4 linked regions of the Homo sapiens genome follow. The protein of the gene in region 1 interacts with the protein of each later gene in a pairwise test. Each region holds a gene or a part of one and is shown in the gene's direction. Other genes may lie near its edges. The genes, in order: CYB5R3, SLC10A1, NXPE3 and GAST.

Region 1 (7,034 bases):
AGCCGAGATGGGCATCTGTGATGTCCTGCCCTGTTGGAGAGGTCTGTTGTCCCCCTCTAAGTGATGACACCATCCACATGTGGACTTTGCCACGTTTGGATGTAAGCGCCTCTGCAGCGCCGACCTTCCGCATGGCTTCTTCACACTCCCTCTCCTGGCCATGCTGGGTACTGGGGACCCCACAGGGAGTGCACCCTCAGGACGCTGGGTTTGGTTCCAGCTCCGACTGGAACTGATTATGTGATCGTCCCTGGCCTGAGCGTAAGACCCACTTAACAAGACCTCAGGGGTTTTAGTCTCAGCTCCTTCCCTGGCCCAATCTGGCTCTTAGCCAGCCCCCCTCCTCCTCTGCCACTGTCCCAGCCACTGACCATGCCCTGGGTGCCCACCCTGTGCAGGGTGGAAGCCTGGCTTTGGGCTCTTGGAGTTCCTGGGCAGGGAAGGCTCCCACTTTCTGCCCTGTGAAGCCCACCTCAGTCCTGGCTGCCCCATTTCCCAAGGGGCTCTCAGGTGCAGTGGCTTCTGCAGCCCCTCTCTTGGGATGCAGGCCTGGGCACGTGCAGCCTTGTCTAGCTCTGCCCCAGTTTGCCCATCCAGCCCTCAAGTTCTTCCTGCCCCTTCAGGCCACTGCTTGAGCTGATGGCAGAGATGGATTCCTCCCTCCCCGTCCTGTCTGGCATCCTCCCTTTGGGACCCTGGGTTCATTCCCTGTTCTGGCCACCTTGTTTGTGGCCCCTCTAGGCCAGCAGGACAGACACACCCAGCGTGCGCCTGGCCTCAGCACCTCACACGCAGCGTGCATGTGTGTGCATCTGTGCTTGGCGTCGGCGTCACGTCTTACAAGGACAAGCAGGCACTGGGGAAGGGTGGGGACACAAAGGAGGAATGGGATGGGGGCTCCGAGGCCTGGGAGCCGCCCTGGGAGGCCTCTGCCCTGGGGACCGTTCAGCAGCTTTGGGCCTCTCTCCAGATCATCAGCCATGACACCCGGCGCTTCCGCTTTGCCCTGCCGTCACCCCAGCACATCCTGGGCCTCCCTGTCGGTGAGTCACGCCCCTGCTGGGCCCATTCGGAGCCCGGCAGGCTGCTGGGGCACTAGATCAGAGAGATGGAAGCTTTACATTTCCACCAGGGAGAGCAGGGAAGCCTTCAGGAGGAGGTGACAGCTGCCCTGGGCCTTTGAGGGCGAGTCTGTTGGAATGAGAGTGGGAAGGCCCAGAGTCCCTGGCAGTGGCACCAGCAGGAGTGAAGGCATGGAGGCAGGAAGCTGGGACGTGAGGGGAATCCCCGGGAGGGGTGGGAGGGGGCCGTGGGAGCTGACGCCAGGCCAGGCTTTGAATGCCGGGTGGGGTGCAGGGGAGTGGGTTGACAAGACCCAGGGGTCACCCGCAGGATGATCTCTGGCCCAGAGTGACCCCGTTCTGTCCTGCAGGCCAGCACATCTACCTCTCGGCTCGAATTGATGGAAACCTGGTCGTCCGGCCCTATACACCCATCTCCAGCGATGATGACAAGGGCTTCGTGGACCTGGTCATCAAGGTGAAGCCTCTGGGTCATGACTGTGGAGGGGGTGTGGGTGGGTGGCCATGGCAACAGCCCATGTGGACCCCCTGGACAGGGAAGTCTCCCGCTCCTGCCCTGTGCAGCCCAGCCTCGGTCATGGCTGCCCCACTTCCTCAGGGGCTTGCAGGGGCAGTGGCTTCTAGAGCCCCTCTCGAGTCCATGTCCCCCCGCAGCCCGGACTCCAAAGACCCAGTGCTCCCTTGTGCCTGGTTTCTGAGTAAATAGCACGTCATCTTTACCAACAAAAGCCAAAGAAGGGGGTCTTGGCAGAGAACAGGGGCCAGGGTTCAGGGCAAGTGCCTTCAAACAAGGACAGGTACCTGCAGCAGAGGCTCCAGGAAGGCCGGCTGGCGGTACAGACGCCCCTGCTGCGAGGTGTGACGGCGCAGTCCCGTCCCTGCTCTCACGCTGGGAGATCCCTGGGAGTTGGGTCCCGAGTGTGCGGGGTGAGGCAGCCACTCCACCGTGGTCAGCGGCCGGGCCTCTGTGACACGCAGGCCCTGTTCTTACCCGTTTCCCTAAGAAATGTCCCTCAGGCCTGCTAGGGAAACATGTGAGGGGCTCGTGTGGTGTTGTCTGGGAGCTGGGGTGATGGGCTTTCTGGGGTCTGCTGCGGGGTTCGAGGTGGAGGTTCACAGGAGAAGATGCAGGCGTTAGGGGCAGCAGCCCGGAACCTGAAACACACATGCCGAGTGGGAAGTAAGAGGCAGCATGACGGCCCCAGCAGGGACGTTTTTATGAAAATTAGAAATACAAGCTTTCAGCCAGGCACAGTGGCTCACACCTGTAAGCCACTTTGGGAGGCCAAGGCGGGTGGATCACCTGAGGTCAGGAGTTAGAGACCAGCCTGGCCGACATGGAGAAACCCCGTCTCTACTAAAAATACAAAAAAATTAGCTGGGCATGGTGGTGCGCACCTGTAATCCCAGCTACTTGGGAGGCTGAGGCAGGAGAATCACTTGAAGCTGGGAGGCAGAGGTTGCAGTAAGCCAAGATCATGCTACTGTACTCCAGCCTGGGCAATAGAATGAGAGCCAGTCAAAAAAAAAGAAATACAAGCTTTCCTGCAGAACAGAGGGTGAGAAGCAGCCTAGACCAGTGGGTATGTGGGGTGTTGGAGACCCTCCCCAATCAAGGCCAAAGCCCTATAGCCTCCCCAGCCCAGCACCCTCAGGTACCCCTGGAGCCCCCTTACTGGGCCGTAGCTGAGGCCCTTACCTTGCCAGGTCTGGGGGCAGGCACTGGATCTGAAGGGTGGGAAGGGCCCTGGCCCGGGCTCCTTCCTTGCTGGGGCGCCCAGGCCTGGCCTCAGGAGCCCGTCTTTGGCTGGAGGACGGACACTGGACACATAGTCATGGGGAAGCCAGTGCTCCCTGCAGGGGACAGGTACCTGCGACCGAGCTTCCAGAAGGGCCACCAGGGATGGGTGGGGTTGGCTGGTGAGAGTGGCTCCCTAGCAGGTGACAGTGAAGGTGAGATCTGGGGCTGAGTAGGCACTGACCAGGTGAAGAAGGAAGAAAAGGAGCTTCAGGTGCAAAGGCCCTGAAGTCAGCAGCAGGCTCAAGGATTGAAGTGGCTGGAGGGTTGGGGCAAGGGGTGGGAGAGGTCAGTGGGGCCAGACGGGGCCTTGGAGGCCCCAGTAAGGTTTGGGGCTTTGTCCAGAAGCACAGAGGAGGTGATGAGGGCTCAAGCATCTGTTCACGTTGAAGTCTCTCTGGCCAAATGTGGAGAAGCTATTAGGAGGATTCAAATTGAGGATGAAAAACTCACAGGTGACCAGGCCTCTCCTGGCTTGGAGACCTGGCTGGCTCCCTTGGTCCTTGATAAAGGTTAGAGTCCTGGCCTGGCACCCAGGGCCCAGGACAGTGTGCTCTGCCTGCCTGTCCGTGGCCCTCCACTCCCCTCTGCCTCCACACCCCATAGCCACCCTCTGTGCTGAAGCCACAACAGGCTCCCCTCCCTGAGGCACTGTGTACACGCTGTCCCTCCCCCAGCCACCTTCCCCTTCTCCATCCATCAGACTCCTTGGGCAGGGTGAGCCGCTCCTCCTCTGTCTCCCCATTTCTTTGTAGGTGTCGGATTGAGGCCCTTCTCTTTCCCAAGACAGTAATCCTAGAGAGTGCAGGGCAGGAAGTAGTCCCAAGAGTGAGGGAGGTTTTTAGCGACAGCACAAAACGGAAGGGACTGAGTGTCCACCAGGAGGAGTGTGGCTTAGTGGGCCTCCCAGAGCCTTGACTTTGCTGACGGGTTCAGTGTCTCCCGTTGGGAGGGGGCCCCAGAGACAGTTGGTGAAATGTGAGTGCATCCAGCCCTGGAGTTGGTCGGCCTTGTACACGAGGCTGGTGGTTTGCTTTCCCCGGATATGTCAGGTGGAGGCTGACTCCTGGGAGGACGGGGTGAAGGACGGGGTGCAGGACAGGTAGGATTTGACGGCTGGGTGGATGGGGCTCCACGGGAGAAGGCCATGTGTGGGCCTCAGAAGAAGCTGCAGAAGAGGCACTTGTCTCCCACTGTGGGCAAGAGCTCGCCCCTGAGACCTGGAGCTGGGGACTGAGGGCTGCGGGGGTGTCTTGCAGGTTTACTTCAAGGACACCCATCCCAAGTTTCCCGCTGGAGGGAAGATGTCTCAGTACCTGGAGAGCATGCAGATTGGAGACACCATTGAGTTCCGGGGCCCCAGTGGGCTGCTGGTCTACCAGGGCAAAGGTGATTCGGGTCGGAATCCCTTGGTTACACGGCAGGCTCAGAGAATTGGAGAGCTTGGGCGTGCTGGGTGCAGGGTGCAGGCCCCTGGCTCTGTGTGGATGGGTGACTCTCGTCAGGCCAGCTGTCCCTCTCTGGGAACTGAGTCTCCCTGGCTGTAGAGGGGGTAAGTTGCTGGCACAGGGGTTGCAGACAGGCCACTCCTGGGGGCCACGTCTCACCCACTGCCAGCCTCTATTTGGCTTTCTCAGCATCTGAAACAAGCAAGCAAGAGGACAGAGCTGAGCCTCCGGGTTCCCAGCCTCTCCACTGCTCCTGCACCTTCCTCATGGCTCGCGTTAGAATGGCAGCTGCCTCTACCTCGGACCTCACAGTGGGGGCAGGTTCTCCAGCCCCCTCTCCAGCCTCTCCAGCCACCACACATGGCATGTTTGATGGCCGGGCCTCACCCCTTCTCTCTCCCCAGGGAAGTTCGCCATCCGACCTGACAAAAAGTCCAACCCTATCATCAGGACAGTGAAGTCTGTGGGCATGATCGCGGGAGGGACAGGTACACGGAACCCCCCACTGAGGCGTCCGGCGGCTCATGTTAAGGGTGGGGTTGGGGTGTGGGTGAGGCGCAGGTTCTGAGTGCCTGGGAGCTACCAGAGGTCAGGGGCCCAGGCCCAGTGGTCCTGGCCCCTCCACCCCAGTACACCTGGGCGGGGCGGTGCCTGTGAACAGGCCTCGCTCAGCACGTGCGAGGCCCGGCCGGCTATTTTGCAGGCATCACCCCGATGCTGCAGGTGATCCGCGCCATCATGAAGGACCCTGATGACCACACTGTGTGCCACCTGCTCTTTGCCAACCAGGTCAGTGGGCATCCCCATGATGGGGAAACTCAGCTTACCCTGAGAGGGGACTTCGGGCCTGGTCAGGTGCTGTTCCAGGGGTCTGCACAGCTCTGCTGAGATTCTGGGGATGACCGGGATGGGGGGCCCTGAATGTTCTGTGCACTGGCGGCCTTGGCAGCAGCACGGCGGGCAGGCTTTGTGGTGCAGCGCCTGTGTCTGGCTGAGGGGGCTGCCTTGCGGGGAGCTCCCTGAGCACCCCCTCCCCTGGCTGCTTCCTCCAAAACTCAGAACTCCCTTCACCATGAGCACGGTGTGGAACCCACTGGTAGAGTGGGAAGAATGCTGGCCTGGACATGGAGGGGCCCATCTTACAAATGACCAGACATTTGCACGAAGCCCCTGAGCTACAGGGTGTCAGGGCAGGATTTGAATGTTGGTGTCTCTGGCTCCTGATTCATATCCTTGTCCACGAGCCCACTGCCTGCCTGCCCGCCCTGGCCTGCTGTGTGGTCTTGGACGAGCTACTTTCCCTCTCTGAGCTTCACTCCCTCATCTGTAGAATGAGCTGATGAAACTGGGTTGTTGCAAGGTCTTTTCAGGTTAGTGTTTTGTGACTGATGACGTAGATTTGGGGGAGAAGATGCTTGCCTGAGGTCCTTGGATGTGGGTCCTTGCCCCACCCTGCCTCCCCGCAGCTGCAGAAAACTGCCGCAAGGCCAACCAAGATGGCCTTGCCAGGCCCAGGGGAGAAAGAGCCAGAAATTCTAAGCTGGCTGGTGTGGAGGGAGAGAGGGCAGCAGTGAGACTTGGTGGTGCTGGTTCAGAGTCTGTGGAGGCCGTCAGACCGTCTGTCACCTGTACAGGCCATCTTTGCAGCTGGTAGCGAGGGCAGTGTGGTCGCCTCATCTCATACCTCCGAACACAGGCTCCGGGAGGGGCTTGACTGTGCATGTCTCGTGGGAAGTGCTGAAACCAGGATGCAAACCAGGGTTTTATTTATTTATTTATTTTGATACAAAGTCTCGCTCTTGTCCCTCAGGCTGGAGTGCAATGGCACAATCCTGGCTCACTGCAACCTCCGCCTCCCGGGTTCAAGTGATTCTCCTGCCTCAGCCTCCCGAGTAGCTGGGATTACAGGATGTGTGCCACCATGCCCGGCTAATTTTTATATTTTTAGTAGAGATGGGGTTTTACCATGTTGGCCAGGCTGGTCTCGAACTCCTGACCTCAGGTGATCCACCCGCCTCAGCCTCCCAAAGTGTTGGGATTACAGGCGTGAGCCACAGTACCCAGCCTATTTTTATTTTTAAAAAACTATTTTAGAAAACATCATTCTGTTTTACGTTTTTGCAAACCTTGGAATGTCTGGCTTCATAGGACAGCTAGATTCCTGTGTTTGTTTCTACATCCCATCTGTGTGATGTTGCCAGTCACGCAGCCTCTGGAAAGTGGCCCCATCTACTGAGAGAGGAAGAGTGAAAAATACCAGTGTCTCAGTATTATATGAAAACCATTTGGCCTCAGGGATCCTCTCCAGGGTCCCAACCCCAGGGGTCCCCATGCTACACTCCGAGAACCGTGCCAGTCGGGTCATTGCTGCTCGTTTCCTCTCCTACCTTCCTCCGTGACCTCAGTGCCTGGTTTTGAGCTGGGAGCCCCCTACCCTCGAGTAGCAGCCCCCCAAGGTTCCATCCCTCTGTTCATCTGTCAGGTGGGTCGCGGCGGTGGCCACCTCAAAGGATGGTGGTGAGGATTAAAGCATGAGACACACTTTAGCTCAGAGAGGAAGACATAACTTTTTTTAAAAAAATTGAGACGGAATTTCACTCTTATTGCCCAGGCTGGAGTGCAATGGCGTGAATCTCGGCTCACTGCAACCTCCGCCTCCCGGGTTCAAGCGATTGTCCTGCCTCAGCTACCTGAGTAGCTGCGATT
Region 2 (7,034 bases), on another chromosome or scaffold:
TTTATGTGAAATCAGCAACTCATTCCATTTTTTTAAATGTGCAAACCAAACAATACATGTCAAAGGGCCAGCTGTAGCCCAAAGGCCCCAGTTTGAGATAAGCACAATACTCTACATCCCATTTAGAACTGGAAGGAATTGTAAGACACAGATCCCATTTTACACATGAAGAGGCTGAGGTCAGAGACTTGCCAGAGGTTTCCCAGAGTTTGTGGGAAACTGTGTCTCCCTCCACTCACTCTGCCTCATAGGTGGAGTCAGTCTGGGGACAGCCTGCCATCCCAGGAGGCCAGGCCACCAAGCAGACCCCTCAATGCAGCCAGGGACGGCAGCTCCCTCCTCAAGGAAGGCCACTAGACAAGTTTCAAAAAATGTAGGTGACAAACAGGCAAGAGAAAACGCCCTCACAGTTGAAGTGAGTATGGCTTGTCAGGCACAGAGAAGAGAGTGCTATGCCAGCAGGAACTGGCCTCTTTTGACCATCCTTGCTGCCCCAAGTTCATCTGCTCCCCCTGCCACCATCGGACTCACAGCAGAGCCCAGAGCCAATGGCCATGGGGACAATGGGCTTGGACACAACCCAAGCACTTCCACAGGTCTCCCAGCCATGATGTAGGAAGCTCAACCAGGACAAGATGGAAGCCACTGGGGTCCCAGAAGTTTTCCACTTCATAGAGACTGTGTTGAGGCCCCTCACAGCTCCCTCAGCTTCTGCCTCCAATCTGTGCATTGACGGACACTCGAACGAGTCCCTTAAATGGGGTACACAGATGTCCAAAAGCAAGGTCTATGCTGTGCTCTTGGAACTTAAGCAGGAGGGAAAAATAAAAAAAACAAATGTGCCCCTTTCCCCCTGAAAGGCAACCAGGCCTACAATCTCAGGAATCTAGAGTCTGAAAAAGTCCTTGCCCGTCCCTGTCCCTTGGGGTAAACCAAGGATCACAACAGTCACGGATGCCAGCAGGCTAGGAGATGGATGTCCCTGACCTGACCCCAGGACCTGTGCAAGTGGAGGAAGTACCTGGGGATCAGGGAACATGGCTCCTGCATACCCAAGCTGACAAGGCACACCAAGTCCAAACTCCAAAACTCCTGACACACAAGCCAAAGTAAGCATGATTCCTCTGCTCTAGGTCACCAGAACAAACACACAAGTTGTGTTTGGCTTTTCCCTAAGAGAAGATCAACAGTAGCATTGAAACCCCCTGTATTCCTATTCCCAATCTCATTACCCTCCACCACTTGCCAAAGGGAGCATCCCTGGGAATTTGGTGTTCAGCATTTCCACCGACCCTTTTCAACTATTATATACGTATATATTCATAAACAAGATAGACTGCGGGATTTACGTCTTTTAATTTTGTACGAACAGTATTATACTGTCCACATCACCTAACAGCTTGCTTTTTTTTTTTTTTTTTGAGAAATAGGCATGTAAAGAAAATAGCTACCTCATGTATCTGAACTGCTGTGCAGTTTGCTTGCATTTATCCATTCTCCTGTTGTCAGATTCATGTGGATTTTACGTCTCGCTTCTGTGAACAGACTTGTGTGTGTCCCTCTGCCCACATGAGGGCATATGCAATTGAAGCAGGACTGCTGGGTCGTGGGAGTCACACATCTTTAAGAGGTCTCCAAGGTCATTGTTCACTTCACACGTTCCCTAGCAGTGTCTGAAGATCCCTGTTTCTCTGTGCCTTCATCTATATTTGGAATTGTCAGACTTTTTAATTTTTTCCAAATGAAAACAGTGAAGCAGATCGCAGTAGTTTTAAATTTGATTTCATGGGAGGCCTACCACATTTCCACGTGTGCGTTGGCCATTCATGTGTCCTCTTCTGGAAACATTGGGTCCTTTGCCTGTTTTTCTATGGGATTGTGGTTTGGGTGGGTTTTGAAAATTAATTTCTAAAGTTATTGTTTTATATATGTTGCAACAGTCTATTCACAGTTTGGAGCTGGTCTTTACACTTTGATAATAATGTCTGATAGATTGCTTATGTTAATTTAGTCAAATTTGCCAATATTTTTCCTTTGTGGTTTATGTTTTTTAGGGGTTTCTTTAAGAAATCTTTTACTATCTACAAGCCTGTCCAACATGGCAAAACCCCGTCTCTACTAAAAAATACAAAAAAATTAGCTGGGCATGGTGATGTGCACCTGTAATCCCAGCTACTCAGGAGGCTGAGGCATGAGAATCACTTGAACCCAGGAGGCAGAGGTTGCAGTGAGCCAAAATCATGCCACTGCACTCCAGCCTGGGCGACAGAGCAACACCCTGTCTCAAAAAAAAAAAAAAAATTTACTGTCTACAAAGTTACAAAGATATTACCCTGTATTTTCTTTGAAAAGTTTTAAATGTTTGATTTTCACATGGAGAGCTCCAATCAATGTAGAACTTATTTTTATGTATGGCATGAACTAATTTTATCTTTTCCATACAAATAGAAGATTCCAAGCCACGTTGAGTGAATTTTTCTCCAGGTATTTGTAATGACATCTCTCTCATAAATGCAGGGCTTGTGTCTGGATCTCTCTTCTCTTCTACGGGTCTATGTGGCTACCCTTGTACCAGTTCCACACTTTCTTAATTACAATTTTATAAGTTTTGTTATCTGAAAGTTAAGTCCCCCTACTTTGTTCTTGAAAATCATGGGCCGGGCACAGTGGCTCACGCCTGTAATCCCAGCACTTTGGGAGGTCAAGGCTGGCCGATCACGAGGTCAGGAGATCGAAACCATCCTGGCTAACACGGTGAAACCCCGTCTCTCCTAAAAATACAAAAAATTAGCTGGGCGTGGTGGCGGGCGCCTGTAGTCCCAGCTACTTGAGAGGCTGAGGCAGGAGAATGGCGTGAACCCGGGAGGCAGAGCTTGCAGTGAGCCAAGATCACACCACTGCACTCCAACCTGGGTGACAGAGCGAGACTCTGTCTCAAAAAAAAAAAAAATCATGTTAGCTATTCTTAGCCTTTTACTCTTTCACTTGAGTTTCAGTATCACCTTTCAAGTCTACAAAAAAAATTATAAGTCTGGAAGTTTTATTAAATGTGCATTACATTTATATATAAATTGAGAGACTATCTTTATAATATTGAATCTTCCCATCTATAAATATGATATAGCTTTTCTTTTACTTAGGCCTTTTTTAATACCTTTCTATAAAGGTTTGTAATTTCTTTCATAAAGATCTTACATGTCCTTTAGATGTATAAGTATTTTCTAGTTTTGTGAATATCATAAATGGTGTCTTTTAAAATATATATATATTTGTTTCTAGTATATCAGACCCAATTGATTGACTGACTGATGCTAATGTATTTAGAACCTCATACATTTTCTTACTTACCAGTTATAATGGAAAATTACTTAGATTTCTTCTGTGGACAATCCTATCATTGGCAAAACAAGAAAGTTTCATTTCTTCTTTTCCCATCCCTATACTTTTTCTATTTCTTGTTTTGCTGTGCTTACTAGGGCCTATATATAGTATAATTTATAAAACAGGTAATAATAATGACTATCTTTGCTTTATTCCTCTTGTTAAAGAAAATCCCTCTATTTACCATTAAGTTTAACGTTTAATATACTTTTTCTAATAGATTTCCTTTCAAGTTAAGGAATTTTCATTCCGTTGCTAGTGTACTAAATTTTTATTATGTAAGAACATTAAATTTTGTTGACTTTTCTATAGCTACAAAATTGTACCATTTCTTTAATAATATAGTAATATGTATTAATAGATTATCTAATGTTAAATCATTCTTACTCATCTTGTTCATTGTATTTTTTAAAACACTTATTTGCTAATATTTTATTATTTTTGTTTCTATGTTCATAAATAAGAGTGGTCCCCAATTTTCTTTTCTCGTAATATCATTCTCCAGCTTTCGTTCCAAGATCATATTAACTTTATACAATAAATTAGGGCATGTTTCCCCTTTTTATATTATCTGGACAGATTTGCATAATATTGCAACAATCTGCACTTTGCATGTTTAGTAGAACACTACCGTAAGACAGTATAAATCATGTAGGGTTCTAGAAGATAGGTTTTGAACTGCTTATTAAATGTCTTAAATGATTCTAAGTTGAATCAGGTTTTCGGCTTCATATTGACTTGGTTTTGTAGGTTATATTTCCCATGAAATTGTCCATTTAAGTTAAAAATGAAAGTATGAAAATGTCCTTAATGACTTTTTAAAATCTTCATTTTCTCTGTAGTTATGTTCCCTTTTTCACACTAACCTCATCAATTTGTGCCATCTCTCTTTTCCCTGGTCTGCCTTGCCAGAGGTGCCTATTTAATTGGCCTTTAAAAAAAAAAAGAAAAAAAAAAAACCCTATTTTTGGTTTTACTGATTCTAACAATTTACAAAACTTAAAAAATTTCTTCCTTTTCTTTTTATTGGGTTTTTCTCATTCTAACCTCTTAAGGTGCTTAACTCATTAATTTTTAATCTTCTTTTTCAATATAAATATGTTAGGCTATAAATTGCCCTTTAATAATTGCTTTATTTGCTCCCTGCATGGTTTTTAATTACTATTTATTGAGATATAATTCACATACCATAAAATCCATTCTTTAAATTGTACGATGCCTTGGTTTTTAGCATAATTCCAAGCCTGTGAACCTATCACCATTATCTAATTTCAGAACATTTTCAATACCCCAAAAAGGAACTCCATCCCATTTAGCAGGAGTCCCCATTTCTCTCTCCTGCTCCAACCCTTGACAACCACTAATCTTTCTGTCTCTATGGATTTCACATAAATGGAAGCATTCAATATGTGACCTTTTGTATCTATACTTCTTTCACTTAGCATATTTTCAAGGTTCATTCATGTGATAGCATGTCACAATACTTCATTTGTTTTTGTAATTGAATAATATCCCATTGTATGGATATAATACATTTTGCTCATCCATTCATTCAGCTGATGGACACATGGGTTGTTTCTACTTGTTCCCTAGTATGAATAATGTCTATGGAAGCTCACAGGCAAGTTTTTGTGTGAACATGCTTTCTGTTCCCTTGGGATATATACCTAAGAGTAGAATTGCTGGGTTATATGGTGACTCTGTGTTTAAATTTTCTAGAAACTGCCAAACTATTTTCCAAAGCACCATTTTACTTCCCACCACCAGTGTATGAGGATTCCTAATTTTCCATATACCCTCCAACACTTGTTATTGTCCAGCTTTTTAATTATAGCCATGCTAGTAGATATAAAGTGGTATCTCAAAGTGGTTTTGATTTGCATTTTCCTAATAAGTAATGATGTTGAGCATCTTTTCATGTGCTCATTAGCCATTTGTATATCTTCTTTGGGAAAATATCTCATTCAAATCCTTGGCCCATTTTTTACTTGTTTTTTATTATTGCATTATAAGAGTTCTTCATATATTGGCCGGGCGCGGTGGCTCACGCCTGTAATCCCAGCACTTTGGGAGGCCCAGGCGGGTGGATCACGAGGTCAGGAGATCGAGACTATCCTGGCTAACACGGTGAAACCCCATCTCTACTAAAAATACAAAAAAAATTAGCCGGGCGTGGTGGCAGGCGCCTGTAGTCCCAGCTACTCGGGAGGCTGAGACAGAAGAATAGCGTGAACCCAGGAGGCGGAGCTTGCAGTGAGCCGAGACTGCGCCACTGCACTCCAGCCTGGGCGACAGAGCAAGACTCCATCTCAAAAAAAAAAAAAAAGAGTTCTTCATATATATTCTGAATATTAGACCCTTATCAGATATATGACTTGCAAATATTTCCTCCCATTCTCTTGTTGGCTTTTCACTTTCTTGATGGTGTCCTTTGAATCACAAGTTTTTAATATTAATGAAGTCTGACTTGCCTTTTTCTTTGGCTGTTCGTGCTTTAGATGTCTAAGAAACCATTGCCTAATCCAAAGTCCCCTCTCCATGTTTTTTAAATATGTATTTTATTATTTTTATATTCTAAATACTGTTTCCACCATGATTTCATATTTGATGATATAATTAGAAAGTTCCCCTCCCCTCATCCCATGATCCTTTTATTGGTTGCTCAGTTTCAATGCTCCTCCCATCCCAGGTCTAATACCTCAATTCTGGTCCCTTCCTTGGGCATTAAAGCCTCCACAGTGCCAAGACTAACACCCCACTCCCCTCCAGAACCCCTCTATGAAGCTTCAGCTTGAGTTCCCCCACTACTTTGCATTTGTTTCTTGTCCGTGGGCACCTTTTTTTTTAGTGGAGTGGCGCTAACATAGCTCACTGTAACCTCAACCTTCTGGGCTCAAGCCATCCTCCTGCCTCAGCCTCCCAAGTAGCTGGGACTCCTGGTGCACACCACCACACCTGGCTAATTTTTGTGTGTGGTTTTTGGTTTGTTTGTTCATTTGTTTGTGTGTAGAGACAGGGGTCTTACTTTGTTGCCCAGGCTGGTCTCAAACTCCTGGCTTCAAGCAATCCTCCCTCCTCGGCCTCCCTAAATGCTGGAATTATAGGCATGAGCCACTATGCCACACTTAAATTGAGTGTTAATTTCTTACAAGCTCAAGTGTGTATTTAAGTGTTCACGGGGGTGGGGGAGTTCCTATTACCTAGTTCACAATTTTCTTTGAGGGACTCTTCTCACCTCTAACAGCTCTTATCCTTATGACATGCCTACCTATTGTTCTTGATGGCTACGCTCTGGAACCTTTGATATAGGCTGCTCTTCATGCATATTTAAGCCATATTCCATCTTTATAGAAATAATGAAAGAAGTGTAGATGGAGGGTAGGGCTGTGGGGAGGAGGAGGGACACACTGAGTGTGGTTTTCCTAAGATCTTGCCAAGCCCTCACCTCCCAACCATCTTCCCACTGGAATAAAAGTCAGAGCCATATATTGTTAATGTAAATGTCCATAAATCTAAGGAGATGCCCTATCAGCTTCCTTCTCAGTTGACCTTTCTGGAGGGCCTCTCCCTAGACAGGGTCCTGGGACTAACATATATAAGATTCCAAATGGAAAAGGAAATTGGACAAGTAGGATACATATTAGAGCTGGAAG
Region 3 (4,555 bases), on another chromosome or scaffold:
GTGAGAAACACTAAGAGAAGAGGTAAGATAGAATGAGGGAATAAACATGGCTTGTTTATTATTTTGGGGGATTTACCAATAACTGGTTTAATTCTGTTCATGATCCAATAGTATTGGTGATATTAGCTCCATTTTATAGATGAGGAACTCATGTTTAGATCTGAAATAAGGTATGTGAGAGTCCATATCTCTTTTCAGCTAAACTTGTGAGACTTTCGTAAAGAAGCGTTTGTATTTATTTATTTGTTTTTGAGACAGGGTCTTGCTCTTTTGCCCAGGCTGGAGTGCAGTGGCATGATATGGCTCACTGCAGCCTTGACTTCCTGGGCTCAAGGGATCCTTCTGCCTCAGCCTCCTGAGTAGCTGGGACTACAGGTATGTACCACCATGCCCAGCTAATTTTTGTATCTTTTTGTAGAGACTACATTTTGCCATGTTGTCCAGGCTGGTCTTAAACTCCTGAGCTCAAGCATCTGCCCACCTCAGCTTCCCAAAGTGCTGGGATTACAGGTGTGAGCCACTGTGCCCAGCTGAGAGTTTTTCTTGTCGTGAAAGAACTTGACATTTCCTCAAGGATTTATAAAGGAGGCTGAGGAGTAATTTTCCCAGGAGAATTTTAAAAAGAAAGCGGGCATTGCTCCTCCAGTGGTTTGGAATGATGCCACTTGATTGTGCAAATGATTTCTTATGATCTTGTCTGGTTTTCTGTTATTTTTTGATTTGGTGACATAGCTCTCAAAGATTTGGTGACACAGCTTCTTGAGTCACTTTCATCTCTCTTAAAAAAATTTTTTTTTTAACAACTTTTAAGTTCAGGGGTACATGTGCCAGTTTGTTTCATAGGTAAACTTACGTCATGGGGGTTTGTTGTATAGATGATTTCATCACCCAGGTGTTAAGCCTAGTACCCATTAGTAATTTTTCCTGATCCTCTCCCTCCTCCTACCCTCCACCCTCCAATAGACCCCAGTGTGTGTTGTTGCCCTTTATGTGTCCATGTGTTCTCATCATTTAGCTCTCACTTATCAGTGAGAACAACTTTCATCCCACATCTAATTTGTCTTTCTTCACTCTGGTGTGGAAATTTTGATAGAGATTCCAATATCACTTAAACGTTTCCCAGAATATTTAGATAGAATAATTTAGTTTCTTCTGAAAAGTTTATTTTAGGCTAGTGCCACATGGTTGTGAATATTAGCATGGTAGCCAAATAATAGTTTGTTTAAATGTATATTTCCCAATATAAATATAAGGGGCATCATAATTTTTAAAAACTATAAAATCTAGAAGAAAAATCTATGGATAAAATCCATAATTCTATCATCTGAATGCAATGAACATTAGCATTTAGGTATATTTTCTTGCAGGTTTTTTAACCATATACTTATAGAGAATATGTAATTTGGGTCTGTGTTTTTTACATATAAATATTTTTCTATGTTAAATAGTCTTCATAAGTTAATTATAAAGATCTGCTTAATAGTTCTGCTACTGCAGTTTTCATTATTAGATAAGTTGGTCATTATAGTTGGACATTTAGGTTTACAATATTAAAGCAGTGGTTTATATCAATTTCAGTGGTTTAAAATATGAATTTCTATTTTGGAATGAAAGTATTAATTTAATGTAGTGAATCTCATATTCCAGAACTGAGATGATTGATTTGATGCTATTTGTGACAGACAGAACCCATAATAAAGCCTTTCTATGCAAGTTACATTTTATAGAATTATCCTACTAAAAGTAACCTTTCTTCAGCGAATGCAAAACAGACCTTTGGTGTTCCAGTATGATTCATTTTGCCATTCTGAACAACTATCATTTTAATTAAGACCATTTAACTGACACTTCCTGGATTCAGTTATTAAGTTTCAGATTGAAACTTGATCCAGTTTAATAACTGAATCCAGTTTCACATTTATCAATCTGAAAACTTAGTTTGCAGATTGGTAAATCAGGGTACTTGACAAGAATAAATATGGTACGCCTTTATATATTCATGTGTTACATGCCAGAAATGAGTCTGTTTCTGGACCCTGTTCAAGGAAATAGTGATGACTGAGAGAGGTACAGGGAAATAAACACCCAAGGGAAACAACAGAAATAAGCCTCCCCAACTTTCTAAAAAACTGCTCAGCATTATCTCTGTGGATTCTGGGTAAATTCAGCTTTTTAACATCAGCTAGTCACTAATGCCAGAAATTCCACTTCAAGTGTATTTATTTTCTTGTGTTAAGCATTATTCTACCTGGTTTATGTCTACAATGTAGTATTAGTGTACTTAGGATTCTTGACACCTCAGTGTGCAATAAATAAAATTTTGAAGTTGTTGTTTTTCATTTGAAGGTGAGACCACAGCCCCTGAGTGCTAAGGGGACCTGGGAATCCTAGGGGAATGGAGGTGGTGGACGATAAGAGGATGGTTGAGGGCAGGAGTTTAAAGGACACAGAAGCTAGGAGAGCAGAAAATGTACTCCACCACCTTCTGTCTAACTTGTCTCTTAAAAGTGCTTTTACATTTTAACTTTTTAAAAAAATGTGGGCCGGGCATAGTGGCTCATGCCTGTAATCCCAGCACTTTGGGAGGCCGAGGTGGGCGGATCACCTGAGGTCAAGAGTTCAAGACCAGCCTGACCAATATGATGAAACCCCATCTCTACTAAAAATACAAAAATAGCCAGGTGTGGTGGCACATGCCTGTCATCCCAGCTACTCAGGAGGCTGAGGTGGGAGAATCGCTTGAACCCGGGAGGTGGAGGTTGCAGTGAGCCGAGATCATGCCATTGCACTCTAGCCTGGGCAACGAGAGTGAAACTCTGTCTCAATAAATAAATAAATAAATAAAAAATAAAAAAGTGTGAACTTAAATATATTTATATGTGTGTACATATATTTTCTTTTTTAATATTCTGGTTAAATGAGAGGCCATCGGGCCTCTTTTTAAGAGTCTAATGATGTGTATATCTAATGCCCATTCCAGCTGGATTGTAACACTGCTTGGGGAAGATAACTTAAAAAAAAGTAGTACCGAGATTACAGCAGCTAGTGTCCTAAATGGAAAAGAAGTGAAACTAAATGTCATAGGAGAAATCCTTTCAGTTTTGTGCAGTGGTTCATTTGCTGTTAAATCTACCCCATTACCATTCCCCTTACTCCTTGAAAATAAAGTGATCTTCATGTTACAGGACCATTGCTTTATTTATGTCACAGATTTCTTGTCCTTTAATTAGTCAGTGAAGGCACATGATTGCGATACTACTTTTTGATTGCCGTATTGTAAAAGCTATATGGTAAAAGGTAACTCCCTCCACCCGCCCACTGCACCCTCACGTTTAGGGGCCACACAGAAAAAGCGAAATAAGATGAGGTGAATCTAATGAGAAGGCAACTCTAATGCCCATCAGGAGATTCACTAGGACATTTTAAAAGGACGTCTTTAAGGAAAAAGTTTTGTTTGTAGATGTTGCCTCTGATTCCTCCCTGCGGCTCCAGTCCAGGTCTTGGAGCCGGCCCTCGAGGGGAATGTCCGGGACTCGGGTCGGTACCTTTTTGGTCTGGGAATTTCCAGTGTGCAGAAAAAAAATCCACAAATCTAGGCCTCGCTGCCCCCTCCCTGCCTCCTCTGGCCCTCCTCAGTGCCCACGCAACCCGGTTCGAAAGAGAGGATGACCGTATTCTGCATTTTAGAAAACAGGCTCTTAGCTTCCCCCGCCCCCGTCCTCACTAGAGTGGAGAACTGAAAGCGAACGCTATAAAGGGCGCCAGTGAGAGGGGCTGGCCTCCTCTTGCCACGAGGTCAGACGGCGAGTTCTTAGAGAAAAAGGCTGCTTAGCTGCTGCTTATCATGTAACCTCAAAAGGAAACTGATCGTCTTTCTCATGCTGTCACGTACTTGGGTTATTATCGCTGATTACAGCTGGAAACAATTGATTTGCTCTTACGTATTTGTGTGACTTGACTCTTCAAACACAAAGGTATATTTTTATTATCTGATATTTTATTAAAATATCTTAAATGGTAAGATTTTTTTTTTCTTTTTCTTTCCTATTCCCATAGTCAGATTCTTAACTTTGGAGTCACTCTCCTATGTTTGAGTAGCCATACTTGCTTTGGGGCAAAATATTGGGGGATAGTTTTTTGGAGAAAGAAAATCTGGGATGTTTTTGTAGTTTAGTAATAGCAAGAATCATGTCTGTTTGCTTTAAAGGCCCAGGAAGGACTGAGATACTAATGGAGGAGATCGATAGAATGGGTGATGAAGTATCATAAATCTAATGTAACACTATCTTCTGTCAGTGACCTAGAACTATGATATCCCGAGGCAGAAGTCTCCCAGGAGATTTGATGTGTGGGTTTAGAGGAGTACTTTCCCACCAACCGTAGGCATGAAACTATATGGGAAAATATATCAGAGTAAATTGAAATACTTTATAGCATGCCCTCATTCATTCTTACAGCTGTAAAATTAAAATGTATGAATGGCCATTTTATGAATGAGGAAAACCTGAAATTTGATGATTTGGCTGGACCCCCAGATTCATGATAATCTGTATAT
Region 4 (7,042 bases), on another chromosome or scaffold:
CTGGGCTTAAGTGATCCTCCTGCCTCAGCCTCCAGAGTAGCTGGGACTACAGGCATGCACCACTGCACTTGGCATAAGCTCTCTATTTTAAAGCCAGTAACCTTAATCACACCTGCAACGTCTCTTTTGTTATGTAATCACATATTCACAGGTTCCAAGGATTGGGGCAGGAACATCTTTGGGGACATGATTGTTCTGCCTGCCACATTCCTACTGGGAGGATAGAGACCTGAGTTTCAGACCCACCTCTCCTTTTTGGTGTGTGGACTCAGGATGGGGATTACTTCACCTGTCTAAGCCTTAGTTTCTACTTCTTTTTTTTTTTTTTTTTTTTTTTTGAGACAGCGTCTCACTCTGTCTCCCAAGTACAGTGGCACAATCATGGCTCACTGCAACCTCACCTCCCCGGCTCAAGCAATCCTCCCACCTCAGCCTCCCAAATAGCTGGGACCACAGCCACGCACCACCACACCCAGCTAATTTTTGTATTTTTTGTAGAGATGGGGTTTTGCCATGTTGCCCAGGCTGGTCTTCAACTGTTGGGCTCAAGTAATCTGCCGGCCTCGGCCTCCCCAGGTGCTGGGATTACAGGCGTAAGCCCCCGTACCCATCAGTTTCTTCTGAAGAAGGGGTTCACACTAGCACTTAGGTCCTAGGATCATGGTGAAGAGTGATTGCATTCATTCATGCTAAGAGCTTATCAGTTCCTGGTACACGGCATTGTTATCGTTGTGATGACAGGGGCAGGGCCCACACACCTGCACCCTCGAGGGGGACGGAGATGGGTCCCAAGGTCTGGGATCTGGTCTTCAATTTGGTAGGCCCAGAAATTGAATTTTCTGCTCACCCAGCTAGTCGGTGTTAGAGCCATGATTCAAACCCTGGCCTCACCAGTTCCAAAACCCCCTGTACACCAGGAGGTCCAGCTTCCATAGACTCTATCCCTGCTGCCTCTTTCAGTGGCAGTTGGGCTGAGGTCCCTCTGAGTCACAGCTGGCAGGAGGGAAACCCTTGGATTCACAGAGTGATATGCTTAGGGAATTACCCTCCTTTAAGCCTTGGGGAAGGAGAACTCCCCCAAGTGTATAAAGCGTGTGCACAGACCTTGTCACCTCTTCCCTTCACTGCAGCCCTATGAGGTACAAATGAATGATTCCTATTTCCAAATGTGGTTAATTGAGACCCAGAGAGGATGGGGGAGAAGACGCAAAATGGATTAAATACCTGCGATATTCTCTTTTGTTTGTCTGTTTGTTTGAGACAGTCTCACTGTGTCACCCAGGCTGGAGTGCAATGGCACAATCTTGGCTCACTCCAACCTCCACTTCCTGGGTTCAAGCAATTCTCGTGCCTCAGCCTCCCAAGTAGCTGGGATTACAGGCATGTGCCACCACGCCCAGCTAATTTTTGTATTTTTAGTAGAAACGGGGTTTCACCATGTTGTTCAGGCTGGTCTCGAACTCCTGACCTCAGGTGATCTGCTTGCCTTGGCCTCCCAAAGTGCTGGGATCACAGGCATGAGCCACCGCACCCGGCCAAATATCTGCAATGTTTTGAGCACCGTGCAGGGCGCTTTATGTACATCACCTTCACGAGACCCTCCTCCCCAAGTTACTTTCCTCATTTCCTAGAGGAGAAAACAGCTCAGAGAAGGAGAGAAATATGCTCAAAGCTCAACAGCTGGAAAAAGACAGGACCAGGAAACCCTTCCTTTTCCATCAGACGAGGTCCCCTCATGAGGAGAACGTGCAGTCCGTGACTGGGGAGCTCCTCAGGGTCAAGGATGCTCATCTCTGAATGCAACCCTTCCCCTGCAGACCTGGCAGGGTCTGCAAATAGTGACATTCTTTTTTTTTTTTTTTTTTTTTTTTTGAGACAGAGTCTCGCTCTGTCACCAGGCTGGAGTGCAATGGCATGATCTCAGCTCACTGCAACCTCTCTGTGCCTCCCAGGTTCAAGCGATTCTCCTGCCTCAGTCTCCCGAGTAGCTGGGATTACAGGCGCCCGCCACCATGCCCAGCTAATTTTTGTATTTTTAGTAGAGTCAAGGTTTCACCATGTTGGCCAGGATGGTCTCGATCTCTTGACTTCGTGATCCACCTGCCTCAGCCTCCCAAAGTGCTGGGATTACAGGAGTGAGCCACCAAGCCTGGCCAAATAGTGACATTCTAACCATTGCCTATGGAATAGGAGACATGCTTCTATTTGTTGAAATTGTCATCCCTCATGTAACCAGCCTGGGGAAGAACATTCAAGGGGGCATAACCCCCTCCATGGGCACAAACTGAGTCTTGGGCTCTGGTACAACCAGGGTTCTACTGAAAACTTATCATTTCCCATTAGTGTTACCATAGCAACACGAATGTCTTCATTCATTCCCCTAGTGTATGAACAGAGCTACACTCACCCCACCTGTTCTCCCAAGCCCCCTCAAAGTCCTTTCATCTCTGAGATTCTGTGATTCAATTAATTATCACCAATGCCTGCACTGCTTTTTGTCGTTTTCATTTATTCCATCTGCTGAGTCACCGTGTCCTGCTCTAGATGAGAGTGGTTATTCACAACGGTTATTCAGCCGTCAGTTGCCATGGACACCGCACAGCCTGCTTCCTTCATCACCCATTAATTCTCAGCAAGGCTGGCTGTAAGCATGGGTACCACTGCAGTTACCCAATACCCAAGGGGATCAAACTCTCCCAGAAAAGGTGGGGGCCCAATGACGCATGAACAGGAGCAAAATCTCTGCTCTCAACAGTGGAAAAGTAAAAAACAGCCTACGGCTCATTACATCTGGTCAAACCATGTGGAGGCAGCAGTTTATCAAATAAGTCAACAAGGTACCATTTTGTTTTCTGGTCCATCTTTGGCAAATGCTTTAGTCTGTTTGCTAACCATTTGAAGGTATATTTTGATACTGAAAAGTTGTTGGCTGGGCATGGTGGCTCACGTCTGTAATCCCAGAACTTTGGCAGACTAAGCTGGGCCGATCATGAGGTCAGGAGTTCGAGACCAGCCCGCCCAACACGATGAAACCCCATCTCTACTAAAAATACAAAAAATTAGCCAGGCGTGGGGGCGTGCGCCTGTAATCCCAGCTACTAGGGAGGTTGAGGCAGAAGAATCGCTTGAACCCAGGAGGCGGAGGTTCCAGTGAGCCGAGATCACACCACTGCACTCCTGCACTCCAGCCTGGTGACAGAACTAGACTTTGTCTCAAAAAAAAAAAAAAGTTGTTATGCAGATTACTAGCTCCCCTTGAAAGCAAAATGAAGGAGGCTTCAAAGGCAGGACCCTCCAGGAATTGGTTCTGCATAGGGGGTTTGCAAGTGGTGGTGCATGGGCAGCTGACCTAGAAGACACGGGGCAGCTACAAGCCAAACCCAGCCCAGCACAGAGGGCCTAAGGAGAAGAAGGCACCAAGGGTGTTCCATGGTAGGGGGAGGGTGAAAGGACTTCAGAGGTGACCAGGATGTGAGCCACTAGAAGGAGAGAACAGGGCCATCAGCCCACAACCCATTGCTCCTGGTAACACGTTATGTTTGCAGAGTCCAGTGGAGGGGACGGGGAATCAATACATCACCCCACATTCACACGCTTGCCAAACATCAGTGGATGGCGAAATCCACTTTCCCTGAATCTAAGCCCATCGGGTTCACTCCCTCACCTACCACCACCCACAAAGGTCCCTATGTAGTTCGAGAGATAAGTGCCAGGCCTCTGACCCCCAGGATATGGTGGGAAGCATTGCTCCTGACCCAGGGAGCTTGGTTCCTGCCCCTCAGGTACAGCTGGAGAGCTGCCGCCACCCCGCTCCAGCCCCTCACCATGAAGGTCAACTCCCCTATCCTTCCCCCACATCCTGGATGACTGACTGACACTAAATGAAAGGGCGGGGCAGGGTGATGGGCTGTACCTGTGCCCCACCCCATTCCTCTCGCCTGGACTCATATGGCAGGGTAGGGGCGGGGTGGGGGGACAGTTGGGAGGGACCTTGAGGGCTTTATAAGGCAGGCCTGGAGCATCAAGCAGAGCAGAGACCTGAGAGGCACCAGGCCCAGCCGTGGCACCACACACCTCCCAGCTCTGCAGGTGAGAAAACCCAGGAGGAGAGGGGAGAGGCTAGGAAGTGGGTTGACAGGTCCTCTCCCCCATCAAGGTACCAGGCCACTGGCCAGAGTCTGGGGCTCACCCCTTGGGGTCTCCAGAGCTGGGACCCTTTCTTTATCCCAGGATGGAACTAGGTCTTGGCTCCAGTACCTACCCTGGTATTCCCAACCTTGCCTTCCACCTGCCCTTCTGCCGCAGCCGGGGCCCTGCCCTTAGCCTATCCCTTCACACTCTTCCCAGCCCTGGGAGGTGAGGAGGACTGGGGTTCTTCTCCTTTCTCTCAGACAAGAAAACTGAGGCCCAGAGGCAAGATGTGACTTGCCCAAAGTCACAGGGATTATTAGGCAAGGCTGGGATAGGAATCCACAGCTCCTGGATCCCACTTCAAGCCCTTTCCTAGACCAGTGCCATCCAAAAGAACGTCCTATGATGCAGGAAATGGTCTTCATCTGCACTGTTCAATATGGTAGCCACTAGCCACGTGTGCGCTTGAAATGGGGTTAGTGTAAGGAAGTTTTTGTTGTTGTTGTTGTTTGTTTTTTTATATAGAGTCTCGCCGTGTCACCCAGGCTGGAGTGCAGTGACATGCAACCTCTGCCTCCCAGGTTCAAGCAATTCTCCTGACTCAGCCTCCCGAGTAGCCGGGATTACAGGCGCCTGCCACAACACCCAGCTAATTTTTCATATTTTTGGTAGAGACAGAGTTTCACCATGTTGGCCAGGCTGGTCACAAACTCCTGACCTCAAGTGATCCAACCCCCTCAGCCTCCCAAAGTGCTGGGATTACAGGCGTGAGCCACTGCACCTGACCATAATTTTTTAATTTAATTAATTTAAATGTAAAGAGCCACATGTGGCTGGTGGCTATAGCACTGAACAACACATGTGGTTAGCATCTGACAATACAGCTCCAGATCACTGATTTTTCAAACATTTCTTCAGCAGCAGAATTCTTTTCTTCCAAAGAAAACCTAACAGAAAACCTGATTATGAAAAACTTAATGGCCAGGCACCGTGGCTCATGCCTGTGATCACAACACTTTGGGAGGCTGAAGCAAGCAGATTGCTTGAGCTCAGGAGTTCCAGACCAGCCTGGGCAACATAGTGAGACCTCATCTCTACTAAAAATAAAAACAAAAAAATTAGCTGGGCATAGTAGTGCACACTTGTAGTCCCAACTACTCAGGAGGCTGAGGTGGGAGGATCTCTTGAGCCCAAGAGGTCGAGGCTGCAGCGAGTCAGGATCACGCCAGCCACTGCATTCCAGCCTGGGAGACAGAGCAAGATTCTGTCTCACAAAAAGAAAAGAAAAAAAGAAAAACTTAAAAGCAGTACAGTATTTTATTAATACAAATGTATTCTGACAAGAGAAAATTTTTATCATTTTCTTATGATAAAGCCAATCAGAATAGTGAGACCAAAAGCATACAAAAATAGTGAGTCCAGGGAATAGATGAGCATTTGAATTTTATGTTTGTTTGAGATTCCAGTTTAGTTCTGTATTATGTTTTCCCCAAACTTGATTCACCCTGATACATAATTGCTAATGGTGACAGCTTAATTTTTTCTTAACTGCTTCATTATAATCACAGGATATTCCTCAGTTAAGCAAAAATGACAGGAGAACCTTTCCTCTCAGGGCTGCACAAAAATCAGTGTGAGCTGGCCAAGCATTGAATGTGCTGCAGTCTCCAAAGTGATAACATGCGGTCTGTAACACAGCTGGATGTCCATGTTCCTTTGGTATTACTATTTAAAAGTTTCACTTTTTGTTTTTGTTTTTTTGAGACAGGGTCTCACTCTGTCGCCCAGGCTGGAGAGCAGTGGTGCAATCTCGGCTCACTGCAACCTCCACCTCCCCGGTTCAAGCGATCCTCCCACCTCGGCCTCCCAAGTAGCTGGGAATACAGGTGCATGCCACCATGCCTGGCTAATTTTTGTATTTTTTGTAGAGATGGGGTTTCAGTATGTTGCCCAGGCTGGTCTCAAACTTGTGGGCTCAAGGGATCCATCCTCCTCAGCCTCCCAAAGTGCTGGGATTACCATGCCTGGCCTAAAAAGTTCACTTTAAATAACAAGTCTTGGGCTGAGCACAGTGGCTCACATCTGTAATCGCAGCACTTTGGGAGGCTGAGGCGGGAGGATTGCTTGAGCCCAAGAGTTCAAGACTAGCTTGGGCAACATGGTGAAACCCTGTTTCTACAAAAAATACAAAAAAAATTAGCTGGACGTGGTGGTGCAAGCCTGTAGTCCCAGCTCTTCTGGAGGCTGAGGTGGGAGGATCACCTGAGCCCAGGAGGTAGAGGCTGCAGTGAGCAGTGATTGCACTACTGCACTGCAGCCTGGGCGACAGAGTGAGACCCTGTCTCAATAAATAAATAAATTACATTACTTAAACAGCTACAGAACCACTAACATGGCCTCAAATTCTGCAGAACAGAACCTAGGGAAACCATTGCCCTAGGATTTGACTTTCTCCAATAGAAGCAGTGGCTGTAATCGGGGTAGGTAAAGAGAAAAAACACAAGACTTCGGGGCTGGTGTGGAACTGGCAGAAACTGGAGAACTGATCTGAAGAAATAGTCCACAACTCCACACAGAATTGCAGACTCACCCGGGTGCGGTGGCTCATGCCTGTAATCCCAGCATTTGGGAGGCCGAGGCGGGTGGATCACCTGAGGTCAGGAGTTCGAGACCAGCCTGGCCAACATGGTGAAACCCCATCTCTACTAAAAATTACAAAAATTAGCCAGGCATGGTGGCACGTGCCTATAGTCACAGATATTCTGGAGGCTGAGGCAGGAGAATCACTTGAACCCGGGAGGCGGAGGTTATAGTGAGCCGAGATCCCACCACTGCACTCCAGCCTGGGCAACAAGAGTGAAACTCTGTCTAAAAAAAAAAAAAAGAAAGAATTGCACACTCATCAGCAGGT

What was found.
Region 2: the proteins of CYB5R3 (region 1) and SLC10A1 interact in binary tests that used the Homo sapiens proteins (3 or more experiments, as listed by UniProt).
Region 3: the proteins of CYB5R3 (region 1) and NXPE3 interact in binary tests that used the Homo sapiens proteins (3 or more experiments, as listed by UniProt).
Region 4: the proteins of CYB5R3 (region 1) and GAST interact in binary tests that used the Homo sapiens proteins (3 or more experiments, as listed by UniProt).

The regions. Positions count from the first base shown.
Region 1 is NC_000022.11:42,625,387-42,632,420, reverse strand, and holds part of CYB5R3 (NADH-cytochrome b5 reductase 3), read left to right. Parts: intron 1-970; coding exon 971-1,043; intron 1,044-1,432; coding exon 1,433-1,539; intron 1,540-4,139; coding exon 4,140-4,269; intron 4,270-4,732; coding exon 4,733-4,816; intron 4,817-5,031; coding exon 5,032-5,117; intron 5,118-7,034. UniProt on the Homo sapiens protein: Catalyzes the reduction of two molecules of cytochrome b5 using NADH as the electron donor.
Region 2 is NC_000014.9:69,787,221-69,794,254, reverse strand, and holds part of SLC10A1 (hepatic sodium/bile acid cotransporter), read left to right. Parts: intron 1-7,034. UniProt on the Homo sapiens protein: As a major transporter of conjugated bile salts from plasma into the hepatocyte, it plays a key role in the enterohepatic circulation of bile salts necessary for the solubilization and absorption of dietary fat and fat-soluble vitamins.
Region 3 is NC_000003.12:101,824,211-101,828,765, forward strand, and holds the end of NXPE3 (NXPE family member 3 isoform 1 precursor), read left to right. Parts: 3' UTR 1-4,021; downstream 4,022-4,555.
Region 4 is NC_000017.11:41,708,299-41,715,340, forward strand, and holds the start of GAST (gastrin preproprotein), read left to right. Parts: upstream 1-4,032; 5' UTR 4,033-4,089; intron 4,090-7,042. UniProt on the Homo sapiens protein: Gastrin stimulates the stomach mucosa to produce and secrete hydrochloric acid and the pancreas to secrete its digestive enzymes. It also stimulates smooth muscle contraction and increases blood circulation and water secretion in the stomach and intestine.